Linked DNA regions of Homo sapiens: region 2 is linked to region 1. Evidence: fine-mapped expression QTL. Tissue or cell type: monocytes. Region 1 holds a variant in brackets; the other region holds the start of a gene. All regions are shown on one strand. Distances are between the middles of the regions.

The links. PIP is the estimated chance that this variant, and not a neighbour inherited with it, causes the effect.
Region 2: TMED3 starts here. The variant in region 1 is fine-mapped to the expression of TMED3 in monocytes (CEDAR, PIP 0.95).

The regions. Positions count from the first base shown.
Region 1 is chr15:79,767,043-79,772,190 of GRCh38, reverse strand. No RefSeq gene overlaps it. Among named protein-coding and RNA genes, the nearest start is that of TRC-GCA5-1, 25 kb to the right of the region's middle. The variant G/A (reference allele first, on the strand shown) is at 2,186.
Region 2 is chr15:79,308,667-79,313,814 of GRCh38, reverse strand. It overlaps TMED3 (transmembrane p24 trafficking protein 3), which reads right to left and starts at 2,703. Exons shown (of 3, transcript NM_007364.4): 1 at 2,398-2,703; 2 at 1-58. The coding sequence starts at 2,565. RefSeq lists silencers at 2,530-2,599, 2,810-2,859.

The DNA.
Region 1 (5,148 bases):
GTGTGTGGCAAGCCTAGCTTCTTGGTGAGGAGAGACACAGGTGTCCAGCTGTTCTCTGTGTAACTAGGAGTTACAGCTATTCTCTCTGTAACTAGGATTTCCCTCACGGGGAAGGAGAAGGAAGACTATTTTATCCTTGGAGCTAACTAGCAGCCATCAGACTGACACATTGATCACCATCTGAATTCTGTGGCATCTCTCAATTGGTTAAAGCCCTAGAAAGAAGAGGAATGCTTTATTAGCACTCTACATTCCAGCACTTTATTCTATTCTCTTTCCAGTGGCCACGGGTGTCCCACAGAGCAATGCTAGAATCCCATGACCGCAGACATGGTGTGGATTCATCCCCACCCCCTTCTTTGCATAGATTGTTCCTCTGCTGAGGGCCAAGAGCTTTGAGGACAGGGAAAGCCTATCTTGTTGATGGGGCATCCTCAGCAGCTGGCTCAGTACCTGGTGCACTGTCAGCCCTCAATGGCTATTTGTGGAGTCCAGTTGTTCCTTAAAATTGCCAGAGAGGGAAATGCACTTAATCTTCCCTGGAAACACATTGCAAGGCACTGAAATTCTTCCAACTGCCCAACCTGAAATTCTAATGATTACACTATTTTTTTTTCACATTCTGCTAACTCTTAAAAGAGTTTTTTGAGAACTCATTGGTTAATTAGAGAAAGAACTTCCCAGATGCAAAAATAGAGCAGGCTCCCTCGCTGTCCAATATGGCAGCCTCAGGAGCTGCGTGCAGTTACTCCTGATGGAGATGTGCTGCGAATAGAAAATGCACACACACTGGGGTTTGAAGACTTAGTAAAGAATGTAAAAGACTTAATAGTTTTTTCTATTGATTACATGTTGAAATGATAATATATTGGATATACTGATTTAAATAAAATATATATTATTTGTGCTTATTTCACTTGGTTCTTTTTTTATCTTTTAAAAATGTGCCTACTGAAAAATTTAGAATGACATGTGCAGCTTGCATTTGTGGCTTGCATTGTATTTCCACTGGCCAGAGCTGCTCTAAGTTCTGCTGATCTTAATTCTCATCCTGAACCAGGAAGGAAGCCAGGAAGGCAGGGGCTTACTGTGTATCTTTAAGGAAGTCCTTGCTTTTTTCGGCCTCTGTTTTCACTCCTGTGAAGTGGATCCCATACCCCATAAGGTCAGTTCCAAATTTCTGTTTCATGACTTACATAGAAGAAGGGCCAATTTCCCCCGAGGCTCTACCAGAGAGGTGTTCAAATATTTAGTGTCTGGTATAGCATGGCTACCTACTAATCTTGGTAGTTCTTGGCCATCAACAACAGGATGGCTGTGATAGAGTGTCCTGAGTGAACATGTGCTGCAAAGCCACCAACCAGTAGGAAAATCTCATAAACAATAGATGCAAAATTGGCTTAAATAGATTAACGAAATGGGAAGGAGCATGAATGTTCATTTTGCTGCCGATTTAGACATTTTGTTTTTTTGACCTTCGTGACTGAACTGCATCTTGACAACAATTAGAGGATGAATCAAGACCTCGTGTTCAGGCAAACAGCCAGAAGAGGTGCTTAATACAACACAGGAGAGAGATGCTGCATTTGAAACGATGACCCCCCCGTGCCCTAATCACTGTTCCTACAAATTTAAATGTGATACTCCATCCTGGTTATGGAAACAGCAATCTAAATGGCTCGATTTTTCTTCATCAGACTTTGCTTAACACAGACTCATTGAAGTGGAAATCTAGTTTGTACAGAATTATTTACAGTTTGTTGGATTTTTTAAAAGGACCTGTTTATAAGAAGACACATAATGGGCTCCACTGAGCTGGCCTCTGGAATCAGAATCTCATTTCATAAACCCTCTGCTAATGTGTTCTGATCTCTTTACCTCATTCCTCTCATCGGTCCTGCCTGTTGGCCTAATTTCTGAGGTTATGTCCTCACAATGGGCATTCTTTTATTTTTTTCAGCCCGGCATCTGATGTGTACGTCCTACTATAGAAGCCAAAATGGTCAGACATTTGCCATCCCATGTCTGGGTTGCTGGGATGCAGTCATGTGAGCTGGGATGCAGTCATGTGATCCAGGCTTGTCCAAGCAGATGCTCCTACCTGAGACAGTAAAGCTGGAGTTAGCGATGGTGAGAAGCAAGGGACAGAGAATTCATTCCTCTAGCAATGACCTCTACAGTCTCA[G/A]GATAGAAGTGATATTCATGGTCTCCAGTGGGCAGCAGGCAGGTGCCAGAAGTAGTGAGTGACCTGCGTGTGGCAGTGATGTTTCAGCTAGACTAAATCAGGCCTATCTTTCCCTATCCCCTCTCAGCATCCACGTCTCCCCCTTATCTTCCTCTACTTTTTAAAAAGGCTGCATTTGCCATTTTCTAATATATCATGTTACTTACTTTCTAAAATGTTTATTGCTTATGGTTTTCCCCACTGGAATGCAAGCTTCATGGGGGTGGGCGCTTTGTCTGTTTTGTTTGCTGACGTATCCCAAGGGCCTGGCACATGGTAGGCACTCCATCCATCGTTGTTAGATTAAATATTTGTTGGAAGGATGAATGAAGTTTTCCTGTGGTGTGATTTTGGTGATCTGGCCCCCTCTGTTCCCTCCTCTTTTTTTCTGAATCTTATTCTACGGCATCCCCGTGGATCTTATGAGTCATCCAATACCATTTCCAATGCATCCCTTTTTTCTCCCCTTAAGTGAACCAGGATCAGTTTCAGTTATTTGCAAGCAAGATCTGAGACTGGAATGGGGTCAAATCCTTTACATTGTGAACATCCATGGGGCATTTTGCCACCAGGGGTTATTTGGCAATTTTTATTTTTTGTTGTCATAACTGGGAGGTGCTACTGCCATCTAATGGGTAGAGGCCAGGGATGCATCTTACCGTGCCCAGCACAGCCCCTGTACAGAAGAATTATCTAGTCCAAAGTGTCAACAGTGCCAAGGTTGAGAAACTCTGTTTCACCTCCTAGGAATGTCCCCGGTGGAATCAGGCGGCCCTGAGGGATGGAGGTGCTGGCTCCAGGGCCTGGGGACCTGGCATTGGATCCTGGCTCTGTCTCTGATTAGTTGTGCAATGAGCGATGAGTCCCTTGTTCCTGCTGACTTATGCTTTCCTGATCTGTTCAATGAGTATGATAATGCCTACTTTTGAGAGGAGTTTAGAGGCTTATAAGAGAAGATACATATGACAGTGGCTCATAGACGCTGATGGGACACGCTAGGTAGGTGCCAGCCCTACCTTCCACTCTGAGTGTCACTATTCTAAAGTGGAGTGTTTCTGGGAATTTTGAACTTCAAGTTAAATCTACAATGCAGTGTTCCTTGGAGTGAAGAGAAAGGGCAATGGGAGCTGTCCTGTTCTGCAGATGGAGCCCAGGGAACGGGACAGCAGGCAAAGAAGGGTCCGGCCAGGAGCTGGGCCTGGCTGTGGTAGCAGAACACCAGCTGCCGCATAAGCTGTCACCTTAAGGGGCTACATTTGCAAGGCCAGCTCTCTCCTGCAGCTGCTTTATTGCTCTTTGTATATCAAGACCCCACCCATGTGGTTTCAAGGTCAAGCTCACTACAGGTGGAGACAGAAGAATCTGAGAACAAGTAGAGTCTTCCTTGCCCAATTATGATTTTTATTCCTATGAAAGTGAAATTTATTAATTTAACTAATATTTCTGAGGGCCTGATTTGGGTCATGGATGATGTTATGAGATGGAGAAACAGAGAATACTTATCAAAGAGCTCAGATTCTCAAAGGGAAGAATTACTGTTCAATAATCATTAAAATAACTTGGGATAAATGGCAACAGATTTATACATAATGTGCCTTGAGGATAAAGGAGCAAGAAACTGTGCCAATGGGGTCTGGGGAACGATTCACAGAGGAGATGACACTGGGACTGAATCTTGTGTGACGAGAAATCATGGGGGGGATTTTCTACTCTGAGAGAATAGCATGTGCAAAGGCCTGGAGGTGGAATAAGCAAGCCCCATGTGGGAGAGCCCCCAGGAATCTCTGTAAGGTTAGAGCAGAGCGCTTGGAAGAAAGAGGTCAGAGATGAGCTCTAAAGCAGTTGTTCTCAGCCTTGGCTGCACACTAAAATCCCTGGGGCTTTTCAAAAGCTATCTTCCTCTAGACCACCCTCACCCCCACCTGCTCAGAAATGGTTTTCCAGGTGACTCCAATGTGCAGCCTAGGTTGGGAGCCCCTGCTCAGAAACAAAGGTTCCACATCAGGAAGGAAGGCAGCAAAGTGTAGTAGTGGGATCAGCTGGGCCTTGGAAACCGGGGTTCAGGTTTTAAGTTTAGATTTAGAATCGGGTTCAAATCCCACATCTATGCTTATAGCTATGTGCTGTAGGTAACTACTTAATCTTCCTGTGACTGATTTACTTTAATTAAAAACTTGGAATAATAAGACTTACCTCTCAAGAGGGTTATAACTTCAAATAAAATAACCCATGTAAAGTGGTTGGCACACTGTAGACTTACAGCAAATGTTAGCTCCTCGCCCCCTTCCCTTACAGTAGTTCCTATTAAGGAATTTAAGCATTGTCCTCTTAGTGATGGGGAGCTGCTCAAAGATAATCAGATGGCATTATTGAATGTGGTTTCTGTCTCTGAAATGCAGAAGATATACCAGAGAGGGGGAAGCTTGTGTGAAAGAATATTGATAAACGTGGCTTTCTGTGTTGTCTAGAATTGCTGTCAATGCCTTAAAGTTGAGGAAAATAAATACTAAATACTAAATATTCCATATTGAGAGAGGTGCCAGAGCCATCTCCCTGTGTCACGGAGAGTACCTTTCTGAAAAGCTTATGCCCCGCTGCCTCTAACCTCCCCAAGAACCAGCACTTGAGTGCCTGCTACATGGAGGGCATGGATGGTCAGTCGGTGTAACTAAGAGAACACTTGGGAGAGGAGACAGGATAATAAGAAGTTTAAGTTTTCAATGCAACTGGACTTAAAAAGAAAATTACCTAAAAGTGACCAGAAAGCTATGTAGGTTTTGCCCTAAGTGTCATCAAGGTGTTGATAAGAGAAACAGACAAGGCAGAGTTGAAGACTCTGAAAAAAAATTCACGTTTGTGTCCCACTGAGTTCAGACCATCAACAAACCAGTTTTATATCTTCAATCTTTAATAATAACAGCAAA
Region 2 (5,148 bases), 460 kb after region 1:
TGTTCCCCTGGGGGTCCTCTACATAGCAGTCAACATCGTAGTGGCCTCCAGTGATGACCTGACAACCATAAAAAAATTGCTGTTATCAAAGGAGCAACCACCACTTACCAAATGCCAACCAGACACTGTGATCAGACTCTACAAACATTTCTGTCACTTCATCTTCAAAACTTTCTAAGGCAGGTGCTACGCCACTTCTCATTTTACTAAGGCTGAGCAAGGTTAAATAAATTGGCTGTGGTCACACTGCTTGAAAGTGAAAGGGCTAAGATTTGAATCTATGCCTGCCTGACTCCCAAGTTTGCTCTGCAGGGTTTCAATGAGCCTAATCCTTTCCATTTTACAGAAGAAGAAACTGAGGTTCCAAGGTTAAGTAAATTCCCTAAGGTTACACAAGAGAAAGTGGTGAGATGAGATCTGCCTTGAGAGCTTTTGGTTCCAGTGCCTAAACATTTACCTATTGCACTATTCTGAAGCATGAATGAACATACCCCAGGATAACTGCTCTTCCTGAGATGGTGCTGATAAAGCTTCCCGAAATCAAGAGCAAGATGAGGAGGGATGTCCAAGAAACTATTCCAATGCAACTAGATGCCACCGATTCTTTATCTTTGTTCAATACTTAACACAAGACACACAGCAAATCACTGATTTAGGGCACTGCCACTCATTAGCCATGTGACCCTAGACAAGTTACTTTATTCTCTGAGGATATGTCTTTATCCATGAAGTGAGGAGTCAATAAGTTATCACACCTAAAGTGTTTAGCACGGTGTCCAACATAAATTTAGCAAGGGCCCCAAAAGTGCCAGCCAATTACTGGACAATCGTCAGACTGCAAACTAACCCCCTGGGGTTGCAGTGGAGATGTGGGATCTGATTTGGGGGCCACCCTAGAGCATGCATGCTGCACCTCCTGCTTCTCCGTTCCAATAACAGACAGGTGTTCCCCCTCCCCCCACCAGCAAGGGTCATTCTTGGCTTGCTGAATGGGTCAAGTAGCTATTAACAATATATTATTAATGACTGAATGCAAGGAGAAGAAAAATATTGATCGAAGTATTCATGGAATTTCTGAGTGTCAGCGGTGGAAGAGTCTTTGGGAATCATTTAGTTCAAACTCTCCTTGTAACATAAGAAAAATAAGACCCACATAAAGCAAAATCTCACAGGTAGGCAATGGCTATAACCAAGATCCATCAAAGGACACGGTCAATGGCCTCCATCTGCTTCCAAATTTAAATGGCCTCTTTGTCCGGACAAAAGTTACTAGTCCTGCTCAGCAAGCTTTGCAAAAAGCAGTGAGTATCCTGTTGCTAAGTGTGTTTAAACCCAGGCTGGACACACTTTGACAAGGGATTTCCGCCCTGGCAGTGACCAGATGACATCTGAGGTCCCTGCAACCACAGAATTATCATTCTTTTTGTCATTGCACCTAGGTTGCCCATGTTAACCCAGTCACAATTTGCATGTTGTCCACAAAGACCTGAAAGTGGACAAATCAGTGACTGAGACTACCACATAGAAGTTGTCTCCAAGCGCAAGCTTCCTTCAGTGCCTCTAACCACAGAGGAACTGGTCAAATAGCTTGCCCCCATTCCTGCTGCCCGTGGCCCCTCATTTCTGAAGTGCCTATCAGCATGCGTCCACAAGCAGATAGCTGTCTGAGTATGATGCCCACTTGGCCCCCAACCCTAGACCTGCTCACTAAATATCGGGGCAGACTACTCACTCAAGACCTGCTCCTGTCACCTGTGGGCCACGGGATCTCTCAAAGGAGACAGGAATACAGGAACTGAGCTTTTCTAAGCCATATGGCAAGAGCCAAGTCTTGCAGCCACACCGCTCCTTGTAAACACCGCCAGGCCTCAATGGCTGCACTGATCCCTCCTTTCCAAAGTGCCCATTCTCACTTCTGCTGCCCTCACCTCACTCCAACTTTAAACGCTGGAGAGGGGAGGAATAAACTAAAACTATGAGCCCACTTCCTCTTGCTGCCATTTTTCAGTACTCGAAGGCACAAGGTGGTCTAAGAGACTGGGGTTAGAGAGCCTGTGTCCAGCCGATCAGAACTGCCGTTGGTTAGTGTCTCGGGGGCCTGCGGATATCTCTTTGGCCAGCTCCCCAGGCTGCGGGATCCGCCCTGGCGTCCCCATCCCGGGCTCGCACCTGCGGCGCTGACTACCTCCTCGCTGGCCAGGCTCGTCTCGGGTGGGCCCTGATGACCCAAACCTTCCTCCTCACGGGGAAGTCAACTGGTCTCCGGGGACTCCCACCCCATGCAGCCTCCCTGTAGCCTGTGGCTAATTCGAGCGCCTCCAGTCAGGGGCTAGCCAGTGTCCAGGTGAGACCTGGGAGTGGAGGGAGAAGGGAGCGCTGCCGGGCGCCCGGCCTCACCTGGTAATCCAGGGAGAACTTCACGCCCTGCTCCACCTCCTCGTGGAAGCACTGCTTGGCGTTGTCCGGCAGCTCGAAGGTGAGCTCGGCCCCGCAGGGCTGCTCGGCCCGGCGCAGGAGCAGCAGCAGAAGCAGCACGGAGGCGGAGCGCGGGACAGTGCTGCCCATGATGCTCTCGGTCCCGTCTCGAGGGCCGCGGCTCGGGCGCTGCGCCCCCGGCGGGCTGGGGCGACGACTACCGACCGGGTCCTAGGAGGATGTAAGGGGATAGACGTGGCACCAGCGGAGCTCTGCGCTTCCGGGAGGGCCGGCGGCTCAGTGCGCAGCCGCGCGCTCAAAGTGGGCCCGGGCACCTTCCGCCCGCTGCGCGTGCGCGCTGGCCGCGCTGCGCCAGGGGACACGCCCCCCCCACCCCCCCGCAACGCCTCTCCCGGCTCGGAGGGTGGGTCTCCGCGGAGGGGAGGTGGGGCTCCACCTAGCGCGCCCCTACCCAGAAGAGGGAGAAGCCCTCCCCGCTGTTCTGCGCGCTCCCGGACCCGCAGGGCTGAGCATCCCCCCAGGTCGACCCAGGTCCACCCTCCAGCTGCTGCAGCACGAAGCACGTGGGATTTTACTCCCTCTATAAGGCTCCGCTTTTGACAGGCTCTGTAACTTCAGTCTCACACTTCCCTCGAGAACCAGTCTCCTTGTCTTGAAATGGGTGTGCCCAAACCTAACATCCACAGTAGTTAGGGAGCTAGGTGAAAGATAAGGGAACGCTGGGAACCCGATTAACACTCCTTTCTTCATTCCCATACCCTTCCCAAGGTGAAAGAGTGTGCGAAGGGGGTGGGGAGTGGGGAGAGTAAGTAAAGACCCATCATTACACCTGCTCTGGGAAAAACACGAGCGTGCTCACACACAAACGATCTCATGAAAATCCAAGTAAAGTCTCGCAGCGACTTCAGGTATATTTTGGCTGTCAGGCTCGTTGAAAATTCTTTTTGCACAAAACTGTCATTTTTGCACTTTGACTTCTTAAAAGCTCTGAAAGCAGATAAATTGGTTTACTGTCTTACCCATGACCACTGACTTAAGATTCTTTTGTATAATCGTAACTATAGGTATAGTTTTATATTCACTGTGATCCAATAAACAAAGAGAAAAGACGTAGATTGTGATGTCGATACTCAATAAATAACTTATTCAGGAGAGCATTACTAGACGTGGTATATCTTGACTTCAGGAAAGAATGTTACTGCCCATATAGATTTCCGCTGGCCACATTCACTATGGATGAACACGCTAATGTGTGAAAGCAATCTGTAGGCTTGGAAATAACATGCATGCATAACATAGTTAATAATATTGACTGGCTCAGTGACAGGCATGGAAGAGGTGTTTAGTAGTGTCCCTTAAGCTTCCTTCCCTGGCACGGTCCTATTTCACGTTTTTTTTTTTTTTAGGAACTGATAGAAAACATGGAAGTAATAATCATCTGATCTAGATGAACTAAGTGGAGAAATAAATGACAGATATAAAACCACAATTGGCCGGGAGTGGTGGCTCACGCCTGTAATCCCAGCACTTTGGGAGGCTGAGGCGGGTGGATCACGAGGTCAAGAGATCGAGATCATCCTGGCCAATGTGGTGAAACCCCTTCTCGACTAAAAATACAAAAATTAGCTGGGGGTGGTGGTGCGTGCCTGTAGTCCCAGCTACTCGGGAGGCTGAGGCAGGGAGGCAGGGGTATTGCTTGAACCTGGGAGGTGGAGTTTGCAACCTGGCGACAGAGCAAGACTGCGTCTCAAAAAAACAAAACAAACAAACAAAAAAAAAACACGATTGCCCTGGCACAGGTGGAGTGCTCTGCTAAGACTAACAAAAAGAAATTTCGGGCTGGGCACCATAGCTCATGCCTGTATCCCAGTATTTGGGGAGGCTGAGGCAGGAGGATTGTTTGAAGCCAGGAGTTCGAATCTAGCCTGGGCAACATAGTGAAACCTCGTTTCTACAAAAACAAACAAACAAAAATTAACCAGGCATGGTGGTGTGGGTCTGTAGTCCCAGCTACTTGGGATGCTGAGGTGGGAGGATTGCTTGACACCAGGTGTCTGAGGCTACAGTGAACTGTGATTGCACTACTGCACTCCAGCATGGATGACAAAGGGAGACCCCATCTCTAAAAATCAAAATAAATTCCTCCGGATTAAATGTTAAGTCTTACATTTAAGTTCCAAGAAAACACCTGCATAAGTTCAGGGGAGGAGCTGACATTGAAGAAGCTCTAGTCAGAGCATGCAGGCTGTTGGCTGGGACACCTCGGTTCTCCTCCAAGCATCCTCTTACATCTAATAGGCTAGATTACTTCCTTATATGGCAGGTTCAGGGCAGCATCCCAAGAGGAACTAGGCAGAAGGAGCAAGGCCCCTGAGACCTAAGCTTCAGACCTTTTCCAGTATGACTTTCTCCACATTCTGTTGACCAAAGCAAGTTCAAAGGCCAGCCCAGATTCAAGGAGGTGGAAAAATGGAATCTACCTCTGGATTTGAGGAGTTGCAAAGTCACATTGCAAAGGAGGGTCATACTGGGATGGAAGGAATTATGGCTGTTAAGCCATCTTCTATAGTATCCAGACTCACTCAGCTTGTCAATGGCTAAGCCAGAAAGTGAACCCAGATCTGCTTAATTCTGAAGACTACCAGCTTCCCACTAAACACACTGCCTCTACCCATACCTCAGGGAACACTTGTCCTACATGTTCCATAGGGC